Homo sapiens: one gene and its partner. The protein of the gene in region 2 interacts with the protein of the main gene of each other region in a pairwise test. Each region holds a gene or a part of one and is shown on either strand. Other genes may lie near its edges.

Region 1 (3,500 bases), on a different chromosome or scaffold from region 2:
GTCACTGAGCTAGTAAGTAGCAGGGCTGGATTTCAGAGCTGGTCTGATGTCAAATGCATGCTTCTTTTTTTTTTTTTTTGAGATGGAGTCTCGCTCTGTTGCCCAGCCTGGAGTGCAATGGCGCAATCTCGGCTCACTGCAAGCTCCACCTCCCGGATTCACACCATTCTCCTGCCTCAGCCTCCCCAGTAGCTGGGACTACGGGCACACGCCACCACACCTGGCTAATTTTTTGTACTTTTAGTACAGACGGGGTTTCACCGTGTTAGCCAGGATGGTCTCAATCTCCTGACCTCGTGATCCGCCCACCTTGGCCTCCCAAAGTGCTGGGATTACAGGTGTGAGCCACCGCGCCCGGCCAAATGCATGCTTCTTTAATCAGGCCACACAGCCCTCAACTTCACAGGGCAGGTGTATGCGAGTCATCTTTGGCTTTGTGCTTCTTACACAGTCAATTTCTTCAGTAGCACATCACAAAATTGAAACCATAATAGAATTGCCCAAAGATCAGAAATTGGTTATGTGGTCATTCCTGCAGGTCAACTCATATCCTTAAGCAAAGTTGTATGTACTGGCTGTTCAATAAATATTTGTTAAAGGAAATCAAGTTTAAATATGGTGAGATTCAGAGAGTCAAATATGAGCCTCAATTCTCAAGTTAAGAATAGTTGAATCAGAATAAGGGAAGTAGTTTTAAGTTTTTCTAACCAATAATTTTCTATCCAATAATTATCCAATTTATATGCTGACAATCTTTTAACTAAATTCCATACACAGAGTATTTCTAAAATAGTATTCCAATACAAGTAAGCTTTGGTATGATGCTGTTTTTGATCATTTAAGAAAATTACAGTGCATGGAAATAAAATGATAAAGTGCTTTTAAGATTTCTGTTAGATCTGATAATGGCATTCTAGATATACAAGATAACTAAAAGGTTTTCATAGTTATATACTGAAGAATATAGGGATGAAATAACATGATGCCTGGGAATTACTTTTAAATACTCTTTTTTTAAAAAAAAGGGAAAGGGTAATAGATGAGCTATGGTAAAACTCTGATTGTTATTTATTAGGCCTGGGTGATGGTGTGGGGATTAATTATCCAGTCCCCACTGTTGTGTATATTTGAAAGTTCCATTAAGGGGGAAAAGGAAGAAAAACTCATTCCTAAAACACCTGGCTTTATAAAATATTGTGTATAAAAAGTACTAGAAAAAGGGGGACGGAGAATTGGAGAGTTACAGAATTGCAACTTGCAGTTAATGAATTTTTCCCCAAAAACAATGTATTCCAAGAGCTATAAAAATCCAAATAACAGAGCATTTAGTTCTGACTTTTGCTCTAAAGAAAAGCTTTAATAGTTATAAGAAATTGGCCAATTTTCCTAGTACCCCCAAGTCTTTGGAAGGACACTTCTTAAACAGTCTCTCCCTTGTTGTCACCCATTGTTACAATAAAGCACAAAGCCACTCAGCAAAGCAGCTGCACAATGCTTACGACAGCTGTTTTCTCCTGCAGCAGCACTAATTTCCTATCATGACGGCAACCAAGCGGTCAGCACAATGGAAGGATAAAACGCCTACATTTTCTTTTTTTTTTCAATATATGCATTACCTACTTTTTAAATTTGTGTGTACTAAAAGGCTGTGTATTAAGAAAAGTTAAATATATAAGAGATCTTTAAAGCGAAGCTATTTATAAAGCAAAATTCTGTATGTTTAAAAGTTCTGATTATATACGTGTAAACATACCTTATTCTTAAATTGATGCAAACGAGGAACATTCATGTTGCATAAGCCAAGATCTTTATTATAACACTCACCTTGAGATGTTTTCCCATCCAGGGGAAGAAAGGTTCCGAAGAACTTCCCTTTGCCTTAAACCATCACTTGAGGAATCCTCAGGATACTGTCCCCGATTAGAACCAGCAGGCTCCTCTGTGGATTCAGCCACCTAAATAAGTGTAACATGAACACAGAACAAAGGAGCTGATGCAACTGTCTGAAATCAAGCAAAAGGAATTATTTTGCTGTCAAGGGCTTACATCTCCTACCCCCCACCTCTGAACGTGACAAAATTAAACAGAAGCAACGTTATGTAAAAAATAGTCTGACATTTATTCAACATAATTTTCAATACATAGATGCTAAAATATTCATATTTTTTCCCTAGAGTATGCTACACTTTCATTAAAATCTTCCAATGAAGTTGTCATTGGTGAGAAAGCTTCCTGATAATGGTGCTAAATTTACTCATTGCAGACATCTGACCAACAAGATTTATAAATACAACCCAGCCCACAACTTTCTAAAATAGTATTCCAATATAAGTAAGCCTTGGTATGATACTGTTTTTGATCATTTAAAAAAATTACAGTGCAGGGAAATGAAATGATAAAGTGCTTTTAAGATTTTTGTTAGAACTGATAATGGCAAAATAGGGAATTTCCTATGCTCTGTTCAGATGTTCTAGGAAATATAATGCAAATTTAGAGTGCATCACTACATTAGAATACTAATACCATATATGTGAATAAACATTGTGAAATGAAAAATAAATGGTTTCGTGTGTCATATATGTCTTTAGAGCCAGGTCTAGTGGCACATGCCTGTAGTCCCAGCTACTCAGGAGGCTGAGGTGGGAGGATCGCTTGCCCTCAGGAGTTTGAGAAAAGCCTGGGCCACACAGCGAGACCATTTTTAAAAAAAAAAAATTCTTTAAAGATCACTTGATAAAAACTCTGATCTTTTCCTATCCAACTAATCACAATGAAAATTTCCAAAGGAAATATATTCACTTTTGTACTCTTTATAAAAATTAGTGACTCCTTTGAAGAAACTTGCTATGTGCTAAATTCAATAAAAACCCGATTAGTGTTAGTTCAGTAATCTAGATACACAGTAACCATAGATCAAATCATATCCCATAAGATAGTGCAATATGTAACTCCACCTTTCTACTACAGCACTAACGGAACAATCTGCTACTATTAACTCATCACTTTGTGTTGATAATACAGTTTCTAATTCCTAGGAAAGAAACAAAATATTACTTGGTAATAACACCATACAGTCTCTCAATAAACGTTTTATCCAACTTCTTTTATTACTCCCCTGAAAGTCTGAATGATACAAATTGTTACCATCATGAAGAGGCAGACACACCTTGGCGTTGATTTCTGGCATTTTTGAAGGACTCTTCACATTGCACACCAGATGCAAAACATGCCGTTTTTCCTGCTAAAAGTAATACGAAGGTACTTAAGGACCTGAACCTAACCTGGTGAGTGCTTAAAAACATTCAGAAGTTAATGTGTAAGTGATGTACCTTTGGAAGCAAGTCCCTGAGACATTGGTGATCCAACAACAGCTTCCCAGAATAAATTAACCTCTGGTCCTCTGGACGCTGATCATGGAAAGAAAGAGTAACACAGGTCAGCATTTCACCCCTACAAGTTCCTAAACACAGAATAAACTGTTTTATACAAGTAATTTGAAT
Region 2 (6,029 bases):
GTCAAAAGCTGCTGAGAAGTCAAGAATGACATGGACTGAGAATGAACCACTGGATTTATTAACAAGGAGGTCTAGAGGAGTTTTGGCATAGCAGTGCAGATGAAAGCCTATTTGGAGTGGGTTAAAAGTGAATATAAGGGATCAGAATAAGTGAATATGGACAACTTCTTCAAGGAGATTTTCTATAAAGTGAAGACAGCAGGTGGTGGTGGCTGGAGGGGTACAGGGATCATGAGAAAGTTTTAATGACAGTATATATGTATGCCACTTAAAATGAACCATCAACTTATGGGGGAAATTCTCATCAGGAGAGAGTGGGTAGAAGCACTAGGGTGATATTCCCGAGGACGGCAAGAGGAGGTGGGATCCAGGGCACACGTGGAAAGTTTAACTTCAGGTGAGAACTCAGAAAGTCCATTCATATCAGGAGAGAAAGCAGGGCCTACAGGCTCAGGTATGGGTAGGAAGGTAGGCAGGTGGTGAGAGCTTGTGGAAATTGCCCTCTGATTGCTTATTCTCCTTAGTGAAATAAGAAGCAAAGCCTTCAGCTGAAGAGTCAGTCTAGAGAAGGAGGTATTCAAGATTTGAGGAGAGAAAAAGTAACTGCTAGGAGAGTGGGTAAGTGAACAGGCTAGGAAATACCAACTTAATTGAGGTAAGTGATTAGAGAAATTAAAAGTGCAGGACTTTGTAGGGTGGTGTATTTTTCTGCAACCACATGGGTGTGAGCACAGAATAGGCAAAGCAGCGGACTTAATCTAGCTGTAATCTGGCCATGCGAGTATGACAAGCCAGCAAAGGAGCAAGGAAGCTAAGTGTGTCTGCAACGGACTGAGTCTAGTGAGTGACAACAGCACTCAGGCTGAGTAGGGAGGGCAGCAGGGACATCAGGTGTGTGAAGGACTGTCAGCATCAGCATCATCAAGGACAGGGCATGGTGGTCAGAGTGAGACACCTGACATTGAGGTAATGATGAGTTCTCGGTTACATCCATGGGTAGTGGGTAACGTAGAGGAAAAGATCCTTACAGGAGAGGCGATCAAGGACAATATTGAAAGAATTTTAATTTAAATATTGCAACCACCAAGACACCAGGAATGTCAGAAACAATGAAAATGAGGCAGGCCTTAAAATGACCAAGAAACACTGGCATGTGAGGCAGGGGCCTATACAAGACTGCAACACAAAAGGGGCTTTAGAGACCAGGGAGGAGTGTCAGTGAGAAGCAGGGAGAAATGTGTCCCCTCTCTCTAGTTTCAGTTTAAAATGGTGCAGGAGCTGGGTGTGGTGGCTCATGAGTGTAATCCCAGCACTTTGGGAGGCTGAGGCGGGTGGATCACCTGAGCTCAGGAGTTTGAGACCAGCCTGGCCAACACAGTGAAACACCATCTCTACTAAAATACAAAAATTAGCTGGGCATGGTGGTGCGGGCCTGTAGTCCCAGCTACTTGGGAGGCTGAGACAGTAAAATCACTTTGAACCTGGGAGGCAGAGGTTGCAGTCAGCCAAGATTGTGCCACTGCACTCTGGCCTTGGTAACAGAGTGAGACTCCTTCTCAAAATAAATAAATTAATTAAATAAAATGGTGCAGGAGGAAAAACAATCTCCCCGCTGTGTGGGGAAGCAGGAACTTTATAGAGTAACATCTATCAGTGGAGCCCAAAGAGTTCTAAGCTAACTGCTGTCACTACATCTCTTTCCAAAACATTCCTAGTAAGACAACTGATACTGTTCTCCCCACCTTGGTTAGATTCTCTCCTCACCCAGAGGAATGACAAAGGAATTGAAAGTAGCTAGCTCCTCTATACCAGAAAAGGAGAAAACCCTGACAACAGGTAACATCTAATTCTTTTCTCATAGACCATTAATTTGTGCTAGTCTCTGAAAACAGACTAAAAAAATGGAAATTTGCCATTTTAAACAAATCAACTTATGGAATACTCACCAAGCACATAAAGAAAGAACTTCATGGTATCAGTAATATTTGGCGATTCCATTTCATACTCATCTTCATCTGATGATGTTAAGTTGTAGATAGTGAGGCTACCTGACACAGTGTCTAAATAAACCCTATTTTTAAAAGATGAGAAAGCTCTGAATTCAGAATTTTCCAGTTCTGCAACTTTATCCTTTTGTTTTTTCCATAGGACCTCTTTTAAAGGCACATTGCTTGGTACATGGAAAGTTACATTCCCATACACAACACCATATATTTGTTGGGAAAAACAGCTGATGAAACCTAGGAGAGAAAAAAAAATTGGTTAGAAAAAACAACATGACTTTGGTGGCAGAAATTATTCATCAGGTACTTTTTGTGCTAAGCTGACAAACTGCTGACACAAAATACAGGAAGTAAGAACATGTTTGACCATGTGGAGCTTACTCTTTAATAGAAAACTGGGACCTGCATAAATCCAAGAAATGGACCCGACATTCATGGAGCACCAACCATCTGCCAGGTAGTACGGGCTGGGCTGGGAATATGGGGTTGTTCCAGGCCCTCCAGGAGCCTCACGTGTGGAGAAGACAGGGAGCAGGCTCTACATCAGGGGCTGCATGAGGGGAGCTGCCTGGTCTAGGGCCTCCCCAAGGAAGTCATGCTGGAACTGACATAACGTGCAAATCACTGAAGGATAAAAGGCAGTTAGGCCGCAGGGCTGGGTAGGTGAGTGGGTGGGGAGTGGAAGAAGAGATGATCATACAGATATATAGGAAGCAGCACCCCCAAAGGAAGGCCCTGAATGGAGAAAGAGCATGGTGTGCTTGAGGATACACACGTGATTCCTAACAGCTAGAATGAGGAGGGCAAGGGGTGGCTGGTGGGGAACAAGACAGACAAAGGCCAGCCCACAGCCTATGTGTGCTAAAGTAAGGAACGCTAAGGGTTTGGACTGATCCTAATGGAGAGGAAGCCACAGAAAGGTTTTTAACAAGACTGGCCTAACATAATTTAAGTGTCAGCAGGCTGACTGTCTTTAGAGTAGAGAGCGGCTGACAGGGGCCAGCACAGAGGCAGGGAAATTATAATGAAAGTCAATGCTGTAGCAATGAAGTCCATGGACAGGACAGACCAGAGCAGGGTGTTTGTAGTGGGGACAGACAAGCGGACAGACTCAGGAGATGCTGGAGAGAGAAGTCAACAGGATTCAGTGATGAGGGTGGGGGAAGTGGATGGGACTGTCAGGTCTCCTTGGCTGACTGAGAGGCATCATTAACTGAGATCAGAAACAATGGCTGGGAAGCAAGTCGAGGGTGTGATGAAGATTAAGAACTCAGGGATTGGGTGCAGTGGTGGGTTGGAGCCAGGTCCACCTGCCCTCATGAGCCAATTGTTAGCATCTCTGCCCAGCCCTATTAGGGAACATCTAGTAACAGCACAGAAACTGACTAATGCTTCACATCAGAACCTCCATACCAACCTAGTTGTTAAACATTTATTAGAACCACAAGATTGGGATATTTTTGATACCCCAAAGTGGGTTTAAATGCATCTTGCTCTAGGACTTGTCTCTTGTTAAGAGAGAACAGCAGCTGGGTCCTGTGGTTCATGCCTGTAAGTCCAGCATTTTGGGAGGCCAAGGTGGTTGGATTGCTTGAGTTCAGGAGTTCAAGACCAACCTGGGTAAAATGGCGAAACCCCATCTTTACGAAAAGTACAAAAAATTAGCTGGGCATGGCACACACCTGTGGTCCCCAGCTACTTGGGAGGCTGAAGAGGATTACTTGAAGCCATGAGGCAGAGATTGCAGTCAGCCATGATTGTGCCACTGCACTCCAGCCTGGGTGACAGAGCATGACCTGTCTCAACAAACAAACAAAAAACTGCAGCTATTTTAAGTTAACATTAAAGAGCAATTAAAATTTGACTGAAGTTTTTGCCTAGTAGCAATTAGGGTAATTGAAATAATACAGGGGAAATCAAGAACACTGAATGACCAGTTGTAGACAACTGTGTTAGTAATTTCAGATAAGAAGCAAATATCACCCATTTGTTTATCTACAAGGACTTTTTAGAACCCATCTCCCTTAATTAAGGGGAACTGCCCTCAAAAACACACCAGCATCTTTCCATTGCTTTGCCGATTATGCATTATTTCCTCCACTCAACAGAGTATGTGGGAAGGCACAAGAAAAAGTACAGAATTCAAGGGGTGAGAGTCTACCACACACAATAGTGGAAACTCAAAAATGTCTTATAAATGTAAATGAAACAATGAGTGATAGAGGGCAGGGTGGTGGTGAAAGAGTAGGTATGAGATAAACTGCCATACCCTGGCGGCATGAAGATGTCTTTTGTCTTTCCCAGGGAGAGCTGATGTATCCTGGGCTTGAGAACAGTAGAAGAAAGTAGTCAGGAATGGAGCTAGTGGTGGAGGGAAGTGAGGGTAGAGAAAGGGGAGACTGCAGCTCAGAAGAAATCAAAGTACAGTTGACCCTTGAACAACATGGGTTTGAGCTGTGTGGGTCCACTTACATGTGGATTTTCTTCCGCCTCTGCCATCCCTGAGATAGCAAGACCAACCCCTCCTCCCACTTAGCCTGCTTTAACGTGAAGATAATGAGGATGAAGACCTTTGATGATCCACTTTCACTTAGTAAGTATATTTTCTTCCTTATGCTTTTTTTTCTTTTTTAAATTTTTTTATTACTATTATCTCAATAGTTTTGGGGGAACAGGTGATGTTTGGTTACATGGATAAGTTTTTTTTTTTTTTTTAGTTATTTGGGTGTGATTTCTGAGATTCTGGTGTACACTGTACCCAGTGTGTAGTCTTTTATCCCTCATCCCCATCCCACCCTTCTCCACAAGTCCCCAAAGTTCACTGTATCATTCTTACATAGCTTAGCTCCCACTTGTAAGTTAGAACATATGTTTGGTTTTCCATTCCTGAGTTACTTCACTTAGAATAATGGTCTCCAGTTCCATCCAGGTTGCTGTGAATGCCATTATTTTGTTCTTTTTTTTTTTTTTTTCTTTTGAGACAGAGTCTCGCTCTGTCCCCAGGCTGGAGTGCAGTGGCGTGATCTCGGCTCACTAAAAGTTCCACCTCCCAGGCTCACGCCATTCTCCTGCCTCAGCCTCCTGAGTAGCTGGGACTACAGGCGCCCACCACCATGCCCGGCTAATTTTTTTTTTGTATTTTTAGTAAAGACGGGGTTTCACCATGTTAGCCAGGATGGTCTCGATCTCCTGACCTCGTGATCTGCCCGCCTTGGCCTCCCAAAGTGCTGGGATTACAGACACGAGCCACCGCGCCTGGCCTATTATGTTCCTTTTTATGGCATATTCATATATATATATATCTCCCACATTTTCTTTATCCACTCATTGATTGATGGGCATTTATGCTGATTCCATATTTTTGCAATTGCGAGTTGTGCCACTATAAAGATGTTGTGTGCAACATGTTGTGTGTTGTCTTTTTCATAAAATGACTTGTTTTCCTCTGGGTAGATACCCAGTAATGGGATTGCTGGATCAAATGGTAGTTCTACTTTTAGTTGCTTAAGAAATCTCCATAGTGGTTGTACTAGTTTACATTCCCACCAGCAGTGTACAGGTGTTCCCTTTTCCCACCACACCCATGCCAACATCTATTATTTTTTGATTTTTAAATTACGGCCATTCTTGCAGGAGTAAGGTGGTATTGCATTGTGGTTTCAATTTGCATTTCCCTGATAATTAGTAATGTTGAGCATTTTTTCATATGTTTGTTGGCCATTTGTATATCCTCCTTTGAGAACTGTCTATTCATGTCCTTGGCCCACTTTTTGATGGGATTGTTTGCTTTTTTCTTGCTGATTTGTTTGACTTCCTTATAGATTCTGGATATTGGTCCTTTGTCAGATACATAGTTTGTGAATATTTTCTCCCACTTTGTGGGTTGTGTGTTTACTCTGCTGATTGTTTATATTGCTGTACAGAAGCTTTTTAATTTAAGCCCCATCTATTTATCTTTGTTTTTGTTGCATTTGTTTTTGGGTTCTTGGTCATGACCTTTTGCCTAAGCCAAAGTCTAGAAGAGTT

Evidence for each region.
Region 1: the proteins of CD58 (region 2) and HERPUD1 interact in a two-hybrid assay, tested with the Homo sapiens proteins (one large-scale study listed by BioGRID and IntAct).

Annotation. Positions count from the first base shown.
Region 1 is NC_000016.10:56,935,142-56,938,641, reverse strand, and holds part of HERPUD1 (homocysteine-responsive endoplasmic reticulum-resident ubiquitin-like domain member 1 protein), read right to left. Parts: intron 3,408-3,500; coding exon 3,330-3,407; intron 3,242-3,329; coding exon 3,167-3,241; coding exon of another isoform or gene 3,165-3,166; exon of another isoform or gene 3,151-3,164; coding exon of another isoform or gene 3,145-3,150; intron 1,956-3,144; coding exon 1,825-1,955; intron 1-1,824. UniProt on the Homo sapiens protein: Component of the endoplasmic reticulum quality control (ERQC) system also called ER-associated degradation (ERAD) involved in ubiquitin-dependent degradation of misfolded endoplasmic reticulum proteins.
Region 2 is NC_000001.11:116,542,365-116,548,393, forward strand, and holds part of CD58 (lymphocyte function-associated antigen 3), read right to left. Parts: intron 4,597-6,029; exon of another isoform or gene 4,514-4,596; intron 2,461-4,513; exon of another isoform or gene 2,337-2,460; intron 2,241-2,336; coding exon 1,947-2,240; intron 1-1,946. UniProt on the Homo sapiens protein: Ligand of the T-lymphocyte CD2 glycoprotein.